Homo sapiens: one gene and its partners. The protein of the gene in region 1 purifies or fractionates together with the protein of each later gene. This does not show direct contact. Each region holds a gene or a part of one and is shown in the gene's direction. Other genes may lie near its edges.

Evidence for each region.
Region 2: the proteins of ALMS1 (region 1) and NBEAL1 fractionate together in Homo sapiens (co-fractionation; one large-scale study listed by BioGRID). This does not show direct contact.
Region 3: the proteins of ALMS1 (region 1) and CLCN3 fractionate together in Homo sapiens (co-fractionation; one large-scale study listed by BioGRID). This does not show direct contact.

The regions. Positions count from the first base shown.
Region 1 is NC_000002.12:73,387,698-73,392,909, forward strand, and holds part of ALMS1 (centrosome-associated protein ALMS1), read left to right. Parts: intron 1-5,212. UniProt on the Homo sapiens protein: Involved in PCM1-dependent intracellular transport. Required, directly or indirectly, for the localization of NCAPD2 to the proximal ends of centrioles.
Region 2 is NC_000002.12:203,219,714-203,223,835, forward strand, and holds part of NBEAL1 (neurobeachin-like protein 1), read left to right. Parts: 3' UTR 1-4,122.
Region 3 is NC_000004.12:169,692,417-169,697,628, forward strand, and holds part of CLCN3 (H(+)/Cl(-) exchange transporter 3), read left to right. Parts: intron 1-3,195; coding exon 3,196-3,276; intron 3,277-4,772; coding exon 4,773-5,212.

The DNA.
Region 1 (5,212 bases):
TATGATAAGTTAGGTGTTTCAGAAAGGTCAGGTGTATAGCAGAGTGTGGAACAGCTGTGATAGCAAGGTGGGATGGGGAGCAGTAGCCATAGGTCAAGGGCATAAATTAGGAGACCATTGCAGCATTGCCCGGCAAAAGATGATGAAAGTTTGGAATAGGGAAGTGTTGGTGGATACAGGGAAAAGTGGACTGATTTGAGAGATATTTAAGAGGCAAAATCATCATACTTAATAACGGATGGGATGTGAAAGGTGAAGTAGCCAGGTGTTAGGTTATTGTTTGAATGGTTGTGCCAATATTAAGATATGGCCAGATTTATGGTGGAGGTGGTGGCTGTGAGTGGGTGGTGGAATTGGTTGGGTGAGTCTTAAGATTATGAGTTTGGTTTTGAAGATTGAAGGAGAAGGCTGGGCTAGAGATTTCAAGTTGTAAGTCATTTACATAGAGACCATAATTAAAGCCACACTTGTTGACTAGGTCTTCTAACTTTTATTTTGTCCTGTGACTTCTTGCTTGAATAACTATTAATATTCAAACTTTATCTTGAAGCCTAGAGGAGGAGTTTTTTAAACAAAATTTTAATTTAATTTTAGATTTGGGGGTACATATGCACGTAATTAACATGGATATATTGCATAATGGTGAGGTTTGGGCTTCTAGTGAACCTCTCACCCAAATAATATACCTTTGTACGTGATAGTGTAACATTGTACTTGATAGGTAATTTTTCAGCCCTTCTCTCCTCCTTCTGGAGCCCCCAGTGTCTGTTTATTTCCATCTTTATGTCTGTGGGTACTTATTGTACCCATTTATCTTTATGCCTCTGTGTACCCATTGTACCCACTTGTCTTACCAGTGAGAGCATGTGGTATTTGATTTTCTGTTTCTGAATTGTTTCACTTGATAAATAGCCTCCAGGCTCCATCCATGTTGCTGCAAAGGACAGGATTTCATTCTGTTTATAGCTGCATAATATTCCACAATGTATATTAATACATACTACATTTTCTTTACCCATTCAGTTGTTGATGGACACTTAGGTTGATTTCATGACTTTGCTATTGTGAACGGTGCTGTGATAAACATATGAGCACAGATTTTTTTCTTTTTTTTTAATGGCGTCTAGCTGGTGTAGAACACCTGGGCTCAAGTGATACTCCGCCTTGGCTTCCCAAAGTGCTGGGATTACAGGTGTGAGCCAGTGTGCCTGGCTCAGATGTCTTTTTGATGAAATGATTTAATTTCCTTTGGAGAGATACCCAGTAGTAGGATTGCTGGGTCAAATGGTAGTTCTGTTTTGAGTTCTTCAAGAAATCTCCATACTGCTTTCCATAGGAGTTGAACAATTTACATTCCCAACAACAGTGTATACGTGTTCCCTTTTCTTCTCATCCTTGCCAACATCTGTTTTTTGACTTTTTAATAATAGCCATTCTGACTGGTGTGAGATGGTATCTCATTGTGATTTTAATTTGCATTTCTCTGATGCTTAGTGATGTTGAGCATTTTTTCATGTTTTTTGGCCGCTCGTATGTCTTCTTTTGAGAAGTGTCTGTTCAGTCTTTTGCCCGCTTTTTAGTGGGGTTATTTGTTTTTTCTTCCTGTTGATTTGTTTGAGTTCCTTATAGATGCTGGATATTAGTCCTTTGTCAGATGCATAGTTTGCAGATATTTTCTCCCATCCTGTAGGTTGTCTGTTTACTCTGTTGGTAGTTTATTTTGCTGTGCAGGAGCTCTTCTAGTTTAATTAAGTTCCATTTGTCTGTTTTTATTTTTGTTGCATTTGCTTTTGAGGTCTTAATCATAAACTTTTTTCCTAAGTATTCTTTAGGATTATTATAATTTCGGGCCTTACATTTAAATCTTTAATCTATCTTGAGTTAATCTTTGCATATGGTGAGAGATAGGGACCCAGAGGAGGAATTTTTAAGCTAACCCTCTTTTACTACAGCCAATGTGAGAAAATTATTTTCCTGTTTAATAATGAACTATCTTTTTTTTCCCCCGCCGAGATGAAGTCTTGCTCTGTTGCCCAGGCTGGAGTGCAGTGTCACGATCTTGGTTCACTGCAACCTCTGCCTCCTGGGTTCAAGCAATTCTCCTGCCTCAGCCTCCCGAGTAGCTGGGATTACAGGTATCCACCACCACGCCTGGCTAATTTTTGTAGTTTTAGTAGAGATGGGGTTTCACCATGTTGGCCAGGCTGGTCTTGAACTCCTGACCTGTGATCTGCCTGCCTCAGCCTCCCAAAGTGTTGGGATTAGAGGCATGAGCCACCGCGCCCGGCCTCTAATCGTGAACTATCTATGGGTAATAGAAAATCTTACTTCTGAGAGCCCAGAGTATTTTTTCCTCCCCACAGTTTTTTCTTTCCCCTGAGAAAAATTAGATATTTTCTTATTTACCTGAGAGAATATATGATAATATATAGAATATATAGATGATTTTCTGTATTAAAGGTAGATTTACAATGATACAAGGAGTGTTCAGATAATTTTTCCTTTAGTTCACTGGCATATTGAAACTTACTGGCATAGGTTGGAAAGTGTTTAAGGAAAAAATGCTTAGTATGTTTCTTGCTAGAAATTTATGAACTATGAAATTCTTAGATGTGTTGTATAACATCTAATGCTGCGTATTTAGAGGATGAGATCAAATAATAGGAAACATTAATTTCATCCAGTTTACTCTCAAGTTAAATGACAAAATTGTGTTATTCAATTTACTCTCATATCTCACTAGATAATAAGGGAGTTATAGTGGTGTTATATAAGGCAGTGATTAAGTTTGTAGTCCTGTTACTAAGGCTGAGTTAAACTATGATACTGTTTAAATTTGAAGCAAAATATGACCAGTCTTATAACTAAGTCTTTTTAAGAGGGAAGTGAGTGATTCAGAGCCTTATGTTGTTTTTATGCTGGTCCTACAGACCATTCAGGCACTTCTTGTAATTCCTTAACCTGAATTTCTGAGTTGTGCTGGGGAAGATAATTCAGTTCTCTGGGTTGGCATCACTAGAAATTCTTGGTCTCCAACTTTTAATTGGGTCATCAACAGTGCTTGGAAATCTTTTTTTTTTTTCTTTTTAAGATGGAGTCTCTCGCTTTTGTCACCAGGCTGGAGTGGCAGTGGCCCGATCTTGGCTAACTGCAACCTCCGCCTCCCGGGTTCAAGTGATTCTCCTGCCTCAGCCTCCGCAGTAGCTGGGACTACAGATGCGCGCCACCATGCCCAGCTAATTTTTGTATTTTTAGTAGAGATGGGGTTTCACCATGTTGGCCAGGATGGTCTTGATCTCTTGACCTCAGGTTATCCACCCGCCTCGGCCTCCCAAAGTGCTGGCATTACAGATGTGATGAGCCACTGCGCCCGGCCCAACAGTGTTTGGAAATCTTTAGTTTCCTCTCTGTCAGCTTCTTTCCCCATCTTCCCTCTTAACTTCTGTCTCCCACCCAGAGTTCAACATCCCCCCATAAGCAGGTTACAGTTTCAAAGAAGAGAACACAGGCTGAACCTCTCCCGTTTCTGCTCCCCATCTCCAAATTTATCTACAGTGCACAATTTATTTTTTTAACCTATTCATATACGTTTTATTCTTTTTTTTTTTTTTTTTGAGACGGAGTCTCGCTCTGTCACCCAGGCTGGAGTGCAGTGGCGCAATCTCGGCTCACTGCAAACTCAGCCTCCCGAGTTCATGCCATTCTCCTGCCTCAGCCTCCCGAGTAGCTGCGACTACAGGCGCCCGCCACCACGCCCGGCTATTATTTTGTATTTTTAGTAGAGACGGGGTTTCACCGTGTTAGCCAGGATGGTCTCCATCTCCTGACCTCGTGATACACCCGCCTCGGCCTCCCAAAGTGCTGGGATTACAGGCTTGAGCCACCGTGCCTGGCCTTGTATACGTTTTATTCTTAATATTAATCCTGTTTTGTGTTCCTAGGGTAAAAACTATTTAGTCGTAGTGTGCTTTTCTCTTGAGGAACTGCTAGATTTTATTTGCAGATATTTGATAATGGTTTTAAATGTTTTTCTGTTTGTTTTTTGTTTTCTTGGCCAGTATTTATCAAACTTGACATCAATATTATGCCATTTTCATAAAAGGTACTTGGATGATTTTTGTTTTTCTGGAACAGTGTAAGTACAAAGGAATTTTTCTTTCTTGTATGTTTGAAAGATATCACCATTTAAACTATCTCTGTATTCCTTTCAGGGTTGTAGTCTATATATGTTCTCCTTTCTTGGGTTAATTTTGGTGGTTTTCCTAGGAAATCATTCTTTTCAGTAAGGGTTTCTAGTTAATTTTAATGGAGTGCTACACAGTATTCTTTATTTTTTCATTTGCCTCTGTGGTTATTTTCACTTCTCATTCCCAATTTTGTGTAATTATGCTTTATTTTTCTCCTGATTTGACTAGGTAGGGGTTTATTTAATTTATTTTTCATTCAAGGACACAGCTCTTGATTTAAGTTTCTGTTGCTGTTTATTTTTTAATTATTAAAAATTATTAATTTTAATAATAAGTTCAGTTTTCATCTTTTACTATTTCCTTAGGTTTACTTTGATGTGTGTGTGTGTGTGTGTGTGTGTGTGTGTGTGTGTATTTCCTTGTGTTGAGTGCTTAATTGACTTACTTAAAAACATTTTAATAGCTTTTTTGAGATATCATTCATATACTGTACAATTCACCTTTAATTTAAAGTGCACAATTCAGTCATTTTCTGTATATTCATAGATATGTGCCATCATGATCACGGTCAATTTTAGAACATTTTATCACTTCTAAAAGAAACCCCATACACTTTAGCTGATATCCCCCGTCTTCCATTCCCCATATGCAACTATTAATCTACCTTCTGTCTATAGATTTACCTATTTTGGGCATTTCATATAAATGGAATGATATGTGTTTTTGTGACTGGGCTTCTTTCACTTAGCTTAATGGTTTCAGGATTCACCTGTGATGTGGCATGTATCAGTACTTCATTACTTTATATGGCTGAATAATATTTTATTATATGGATATGTGATATTTTGTATATCCATTCATCAGTTGATGGACATGTTTTTTTTCCTCCTTTTTGGCTATTATGTATAATGCTACCGTAGACATTCTTATATAAGTGTATGTGTGGACATATGGATTCATTTCTCTTGGATGTATATCTAGGAGTAGAATTTTTGGGACATATGGAATTCTGTTAACCTTTTAAG
Region 2 (4,122 bases), about 130 Mb from region 1:
CATGGTGGCACATGCCTATAGTCCCAGCTACTTGAGAGGCTGAGCAGCGCAGGAGAATCACTTAAACCCGGGAGGTGGAGGTTGCAGTGACCTGAGATCACGCTACTGCACTCCAGCTTGGGCAACAGAGTGAGACTTTGTCTCAAAGAAAAGAAAAAAAATATGGAATTTAGAGAAAAATCTTTGAGAATACTAGCAACAGTCTAGAGAATGGAACTTAAATTTTATCTGTTAAAAGAAGCAAACAACTATTAGTGAATAATATATTACTCATTTAAAGAGTATAGCCTACTGAATTAAAAATCACTAGATAAAATAATTGGAAAGAAGTACTTTTGAGAATTCTGGTATATTTAGATGTTACCCATAGAAATTAGTTATATATTATATAATGGGAGAAATGAACAGTATCATTGGAATGAAATAACAGGTGGACATTTCAATTGGTGAATATAGTATCTCAAGTTGGCTCTTACAAAGTCTGTTACCTGGCCAATTGTGGTGGCTCACGCCTATAATCCCAGCTCTTTGGGAGGCCGAGGTGGGCGGATCACAAGGTCAGGAGTTCAAGACCAGCCTGGCCAACATGGTGAAACCCTGTCTCTACTAAAAATACAAAAATTTGCTGGGCATGGTGGCAGGTGCCTGTAGTCCCAGCTACTCAGGAGGCTGAGGCAGGAGAATCGCTTGAACCCAGGAGGCAGAGGTTGCAGTGAGCCAAAATCGCACCACTGCACTCCAGCCTGGGCAACAGGGCAAGACTCCATCTCAAAAAAAAAAAAAGTCTGTTATCTTTGCAAAACTTTTTGTATGCTTTTGTTTCTTGATACTGGTGATGACAAAAATAAAAATCTCAGCATCCTGGTGATAGGAAGAGATTTATACCAAGATAATTATTTTACTTTTGGAAAATGAGATCAAGTATTAAAACATGTAATAGCTGTGCACGCTTAGAGAATAAAGAACCTTTATAAAATTTTTTTACAACTGTTTGCAATCAGTATTCTGGCATTACTCAGATAAAATTGTAAGAGAGAAAGAAAAATAGATCAGGGCATAAAAATCAGGAAAGTATATAAAAATGAAGTTTGGCAAGTTGGTTTAGTCTTTCTTTTTAGCCTGTGAAGCTCACGTCTGTTATTAAGTTAATAACAAAATTAAAATCTGTTAACTTTGTTTAGGTCACAGTGCAGTGCATCCTTTTGTAGAAGAAAAAATACCAAGTGTTCATTCTGTCATTAGCAAGGAACACCAATGAGGTTTCTTTTTTTTCTCTATTTAGGGCATATTAAAATTATCCTTCAGAGTACTTGTATTGAAAATCAAGTTTATGCTTCTGAAAAGAATAAGTGGGCTCTCAGAATTAGAATTCAGATTTGACGGTTGAATCTTAAGACATTTTATATTTTGTGTGAAAAGGAGTGGTCAGGGGAAACTGTTAACTTGGATACCAGATTTTTATTTAATGATGATAGAGATATGACCTTTGCCTTTATGTATATTTTATATTGTTACTACTAAAGAGACCACTGAGGAAATCTTGTAATTGAACTTAAGGAAGTTAGCTCCTTTTATATATTTATAAAATGAGTAGCATTATCTTTACCACCTTTCCACTGAAAAGATGCAAGTCCTAGGACTATATTAAATATAAATATTATATTATTAAATAATATATGTAATATGGGTGTCTGTTGGGGTTATGTGTGTGTAAAGATTGGTCTTTTCAAATATGTATATTTAAACCTGTCTTCTGGAAACAGGTTCTTGAACCTATCTTTAGGATACAGTTTTTGACTGGGATATAAGAAATGAAACATGTTTGTTTGTTTCCTTTTTGTTTGTTTGTTTGCATCATCAGCCATACTCATGGCTTATCCTACGCATTGTTCCTCTCATCAGCTGAAACTGTTTCTCCCCAATAAGTGAGCAATCTTAAACATTTTCATCACTCTTTAACAAAATCCATTCTCAATATTCTTTTTGCTGAATTCGTATATTGTATATGCTCAACATATTATTTGTTTTAAACTTGACTCCATCCAGAGCATTGTTCTATAGAGTTTTCCTGTATTTATCAGAGTCATGTGGTATTTTTCTTGATGACCTTAGGCAACAATATAGTGTTATCAGTCATCATTTTAATATGATTTAAAATGTGGACCACAGCCTGCCTTCTTTAGTTTAAATCTAGGCCAAGCATGGTGGCTCATGCCTATAATCTCAGCACTTTAGGAGGCTGAGGCAGGAGGATCACTGGAGCCTAGGAGCTCAAGACCAGCCTGGGCAGCATAGTGGGCTCCACCTCTACAAGACATTAAAAAATTAGCCTTGTGTGCTGGCAAGCGCCTGTAGTCCTAGCTGCTCGGGAGGCTGAGGCAAGGGGTTTGCTTGAGCCTAGAGATCAAGGCTGCAGTAAGCTGTGATTGCACCACTGCACTTCAGCCTAGGTGGCAGAGTTAGACCCTGTCTCCAAAAATACATTTTTTTAAATTTAAATCTGGCAGTTTCTAGGCCAGTGGTTCTTAATGGATATTACAGATCAGACTTCTCTGTGGAGTTTATAAATATACAGATATGTAGGCACTGCTTTGGACTTCATGAATCTCTTTGCTTGATATTCTTGGTATTAAAAAATTATGTCTGAGGATTATTATGTTATATCCTAAAAATTTTTCTGCATAGAAATTTGTCCATTTATCTTTATATACCAGATCCAATATTCAGACTTATTTGAAAATAGGCTTAATCATTATCCTGAGGGACATTTTGTCTAAAATTTGCTTGGAATGGCTTTATTATCTTTGTTTTGCCTGCCACAAAAACAACAAAATCTCCTTTCAATTGAGTTATTTTTATCATGAACTCTCTTTAGACTGTTCACATTTGAAAATTATAACTAATATTTGCCTCCAGAAAAGTACATCTGTTTGCTAATATTAGTTCCTGGTGACTTTCAGTGAACGTTTTGCAAACTTGAATTAGGCAACATTTTAAAGAAGAAAAAAACATGACTAACATGCTAAATTTAAAACATAAAAGTAGATCTCTTAGAGCCTTGAAGCTTGTAATCAATAGAATTTTCCTAATTAAAAAGCATTGGGTAAATTATCTACTACTTCCAATGACTTTTGCAGGTACAGCCTCTGTATGGAAATAATCTTTAATTTTTTATAGGTATAACAGAGAAGAACGCATTAACATTTAAGATGTTTAATTCCAAATAGGAAATAATTCAGTTTTCTGTGTTAAGAAATGTAAGGCCATCCTAGAGTATAGGAGTTACGTGATTTTCTTCTGTATAAAAATCTCATTTAATAGTGGCTGTATTATCAGATACTTATTTGATTATAGTAATTCATCAGACACATCTCCTTCGTTTGGTGATTATCTCATTGATCTTTGTCACACGTGAGTGATTTCTAAACACATTGCAGGATTTGGACCTGTAAAGCCAGTGGCTTTAGTGATAAGTAAAAGGGCACATTCAACAATATTTACCTTTGTCTTAATGCCCATAATCTTATGAACTGAAAATTCAGAAGGAAAAGAACAAATAGAAAGCTACTAATTCAATATTTGTTTTTCATGGTACGGTTTTCATGTTTCCTTGGAAACATATTTTGCAAATATAACAATAATAGTAATAACACAATTTTGTCATTTAAAAAATTACCCATTCATTTTTCAAACTTGACTGTTAGTGGAGGGGTATATGTGTGTCTGTGTTTCCACTTATGTAATGGCTGTCTCATTATTTAAATTAATTTATAATTATTTTTCAGTGTACAGAGTGATTAGCGGCTTGTAATGCTGTTACAATGTAGCATTGTAATGTAAGATGAAGAAAAATTAGGATTTAGGTGGGATTTTTAAAAATTTATCAATTCAGCTACTTTTTAAAAGAAGTCCTATTCCAATTGGACCTTTAAAATTTTTATTTTGGTAATATTTCAACTTAAGATGTATTAAAACTAGCAATTCTGTGGTAATCAGTGTACTAGTCAACATTAAAATGCTATTTTGGGTTGTCTTCTTTTGGTAACATATTCTGACACTAAGCAACATGTTTTACAATTTAGTGGGATGAACCTACAAATTCATAAATGCTTCTCTTTATTT
Region 3 (5,212 bases), on another chromosome or scaffold:
ATTCAGATAAAAAATTTTGAGATTTGTGCTTCTGTTTTTCCTGAATAATCTATAACATCTTTCTAGAATCCATTCCCAGTGCTGCTCAGTTCGTCTTACATTTTAGAGAAGCTTTAGATAGACAGCTGGTGTCCATTGGGTTTCAGCTGCATTTCACGAAGATCTTCCTGTTATCACTTTACCTTACATCTTTCCTCTTCTGAAGTGTTTTCTAAGCTTAGCTTTGTTTTTCACTCTTACTTTCAACATTAAGAGGTTGGGAAATCTTAATAGCTATGTTTTCCTCCTGGAGGCAGTGTCTGGTGCCAGTGTAAGTGGTGTGTGATATGAAAAATGCTATCCAGTGCTATGGGGAAGTTCTGAGGGCCTTTAGAAGCTCTTGAAGTTTAAATCAGAAATTCACATTAAAGAGATTACAGGAAATCCTTTTCATTTGATTGTTTAAGGCAATTTCCTTTACCATTTCTTTAGGCCAGCCTGAGATCTTCTACAAGACCTTGAAACCTTATATATATTATGGATTTCCTCTGATGTTTCCATATTGCTCTGGGCATTTTCCTGAATCCTTTATATTAGCTCTAGACTTTGGGAGCCCAGTCCCTTCCTATTTTCCAAATCTAAATCTACAGCCCTAGATGGTACAGAGATCTTTGAGTTTTTAAGATATGATTTTTTGAAAAACATCTCATTAAATACTGGCAGAACCTTTTCATCTTGTTGAGTTTTTTAATGTACTGTAACCAAAAAAGTAGAATATTTTATCAAACTGTTTAATCTTCAATTGAAATAATTCTAGTACATTTTAATGTTCGCATTAAAATATTGTCCTTGCATTGGACGTAGATATCCCAAAAGTGGAATACTTCAGATTGTCGTAGTTTCATCTCTGAATAATTGTGATTCCAGTACTTTATAACAAAAATAGCTAGCATTATTGATTACTTTCTGTGTATCTGGTACTGTGGCAGATACTTTACTTGGATTTTAATACTTAATTTCACAGTAATTTAGTAATATGGCCCTGTTATCCTCATTTAGTGATTAGTAAACTAGGGCTGAAAACAGCTAACTAACTTGCCCGAGACTACATACCTAGTAAGTGGTGGAACGTAGGTTAAAATTCATTTTTCTTTGACTTCAAAGTCTGTGGTCTTACCTACTTACATTACTGCCCTTACGACTATGTGGGTATATATTTGTGTGTGTTCAAAACAAACTCAAAACCATCCTGTAGCGTAGCAAGTTAGTGGCTAAGATGAAGCTAGAGCATTTGCCTCCTCAATTCAATTCCATTACTTTCTGTTGTACCTTTATATTTTTTGGTAAGACTTTTACTTATTCTAAGTTCAAAAAATGTAATTTATTAGATGTTTGAGAAATTAAGTTTACCTAAATTTTAATGTTCATACTGTAGTGATTAGTTAATGTTTAATACGTTGTTATTCTGTCACCTTAGTGTATATATAAATGGCAAGAATTCACGGTTAGTTGAAAGCATTAAGGTCCCATAGTTTTGTGTAGACAAGAGGGGAGAGCGTTGATATTTTTAAATTAAATGCTTCTTAGATACGTATGAAATGGATTAAAACATGTATATGAGTTATAGATACCTAGGTGTTAGTTTGGTTGTAAATTCAGGATCAGGACATTCAAATAAATATGTTTGCTTTCCTCTTAGTGGAGGAAAAAAAAAAGAAGCTAAATTTGCTCCCTTTCCTCCCCAAATAAGCAGAGTCTACATTTTAATGCCAACAATTTGATTAAAACAAATATTTATTTACTTTTAATTCACCAAACTTTTATAAAGTATTTACTGGTGCCAGGCACTGTTCTAAAGCACTCTGTATATATTTACTCAGTCCTTAAGAGCTAAGTAATATTATCACGTTTCCATTTTAGAGAAAACTGAGGCACATATAGGTTAGGTTATCTACCCATAGCCATACAGCTAGTAAGTAGCAGAGCCATGATTTCAACACAGCAGCCTGACTATGGAGTTCATGATCTTAACCATTTACAGCTTAATTTTTATTATTTATAATTTCTCTTCTGGAAATGTAACAATTGACCATTTGAAGAAATACTTTAGGTAGCTTTGGATATTTGCTGTATTAAAGTAGTGAAAGTAATACAGACACTTGGCTGGGCGCGGTGGCTCACGCCTATAATCCCAGCATTTTGGTAGGTTGAGGCAGGCAGATCACCTAAGGTCAGGAATTCGAGACCAGTGTTGCCAACATGGTGAAACCCCGTCTCTACTAAAAATACAAAAATTAGCCGGGCGTGGTGGCAGGCGCCTGTAATCCCAGCTACTCGGGAGGCTGAGGCAGGAGAATCACTTGAACCCAGGAGGTGGAGGTTGCAGTGAGCTGAGACGACGCCATTGCACTCCAGCCTGAGAAACAAGAGAGAAACTCTGTCTCAAAAAAAATAAAGGAATACAGACTCTTAGAAAAATAATTACAAATAAAACCCTAGTGAAATTATAGGTATAGTTAGGTATAGTTGGCTTACAGGTGGGAAGTAGACCATTACCAACTGATAGACTGGGGAGCTGGAGAGAGGACACGGAAGAGTGTCCTTGGATTTTTCTTTTCCTTTAATTTTTTTGTAGAGGTGTTGGTTGGTGAGACTGTAACTTGAGGAGCTGTTGTGTGTGCTTTCAGAATGAGGCTCTCTAGATTGATAGTATTTTAGCAGTATTTCAGAATGCATAGGGTAGTGAAAATATAGGGAATCTTACAAGGTCTTCGGTTCCCTGCATATCTTGCTACGATTTGGAATAGAGTATTTATGGTGGAGCAGTTAGCTCTAAAATTTGAAGAAATGATATCCTATTTAAAAATAGCTCCCCATCCCAGTTACTGCCCTCCCCTCTTACCTACACAAACATACGTCTTGAAAATTGTCTATATTCATTGCCTCCTCCTCTTTACACCCTATTCACATTAGTATATCTGGCAAAAATTTTTTTTAACTGAATGGTAAATGCATGACTGACCTTTCAATTAAAGCCAGGAGAAAGAAACAAATCTTAATAGAAGAAATGAATAGTTACCCTTTGCTTAGGGAGCAAGGAAACATGCAAGTTAAATTCAGAAAATCCATTTGGAAAATTCAAGTAACATGAAGAATTTTTATTTGGTATGTTTGAATTTCTATGAAATTATGAAATAAGCCATATCCTCTTTCTAGGTGCTATCAGCTGCCTCAGCTGCAGGGGTTTCTGTAGCTTTTGGTGCACCAATTGGAGGAGTTCTTTTTAGCCTGGAAGAGGTAGGTGAAAAGAATACAACAATTAAAATTATATATAATTACCATTACAAATATATTTCACACATTTCAGTTTTGTAGGTGATGTAATAGGTAGAGACTTTGTTTTCAAATTTATTTTTCTAAAGTTGTTTTCCACTCATTCTTAATAAAAAGTAAATGTTATTCATGCTCCATACCTGGAGGAAACTTTTTAAAAATTTATTAATGTATGAATGTTAGTAATTATTTAAAATCTAACTTTGTTGACATATTTAAAAGTAAGAAGATGTGAATTTGACTTAATAGAGGACATGTGAAACAATCTATTTCCATTGGCTAAATTCTGTATTTTTAGTAGAGATGGAATTTCACCATGTTGGCCAGGCTGTTTTTTTGTGGGGTTTTTTTGTTTTGTTTTGTTTTGTTTTTGTTTTTGAGACGGAGTTTCACTCTTGTTGCCCAGGCTGGAGTGCAATGGCGCGATCTTGGCTCACTGCAACCTCCGCCTCCAGGGTTCAAGTGATTCTCCTGCCTCAGCCTCCCAAGTAGTTTTTGTTTAAAAAATTTTAATCAATTCCTATGTTGTGTTTTAAAGTTTTTCCCATGTGATTATTTCTGATACAGTTAGTGATGTTAAAGAAAATAATTTTAGTGACTTCAGTGGATTATTTTGTTTTTGTTTTCTTAATAGGTGTTTAAGACTTTTCTTTTTACATAAAAATGTAACCAGGAATTTTTTTTTAATTTTTTTTGACAAATAATAATTGTTTTTGTTTATGGGGTATAATGTGATGTGTCTATACATGTATACATTGCGGAATAATCAAATCAGAGTGATTAGCAAATCCCTCAAATATTTATTATGTCCTTGTGGTGGTGAGAACATTTAAAATCCTCTTTTAGCTATTTTGAAATATATAATACATATTATTAACTGTGGTCATCTTACTGTGCAATAGAACACCAGAACTTATTCCTCCTCTGTAAGTTCATACCCGTTGACTAATGTCTCCCCTTTCCCTGTTCACCTCCCCAACCCCTAGCCTCTGGTAACCCCTATTCTACTCTCTACTTCTATGAATTTAACTCTTTTAGTTCAAGATGTTTTTAAATGTACTTTTTTCTTTTAGTTGTTTGTATTCTTTTTTTTTTTTTAATGTAGAAGAGGCAAATTAAATGCATTATAAGTTAACAGGAGTTGGTGATGGTACATTTATTTTTAACTACCATGATTGAATTGAATGTGAAACTCATTTTGAATATAAAACAGCACTAGGTATTCTATTAGTATTTATTAGACATTTATGATCAATTGATACTGTCAATTTGTAATGATGATCACCATCTCCAAAAATAATAATAACATCAATTTTTCTTATTACAGTAAAATCCATTACATGTAAATTCTAACTACAGCAAAATTTAGAGCTAGGATATTTACCATTCAAGTTATAATATATCAGAAACATCTTATAAAATTATAGCATTAATTTTTCTTTTCCTTTTCTTTTTTTTAGGTTAGCTATTATTTTCCTCTCAAAACTTTATGGAGATCATTTTTTGCTGCTTTAGTGGCTGCATTTGTTTTGAGGTCCATCAATCCATTTGGTAACAGCCGTCTGGTCCTTTTTTATGTGGAGTATCATACACCATGGTACCTTTTTGAACTGTTTCCTTTTATTCTTCTAGGGGTATTTGGAGGGCTTTGGGGAGCCTTTTTCATTAGGGCAAATATTGCCTGGTGTCGTCGACGCAAGTCCACGAAATTTGGAAAGTATCCCGTTCTGGAAGTCATTATTGTTGCAGCCATTACTGCTGTGATAGCCTTCCCTAATCCATACACTAGGCTAAACACCAGTGAACTGATCAAAGAGCTTTTTACAGACTGTGGTCCCCTGGAATCCTCTTCTCTTTGTGACTACAGAAATGACATGAATGCCAGTAAAATTGTCGATGA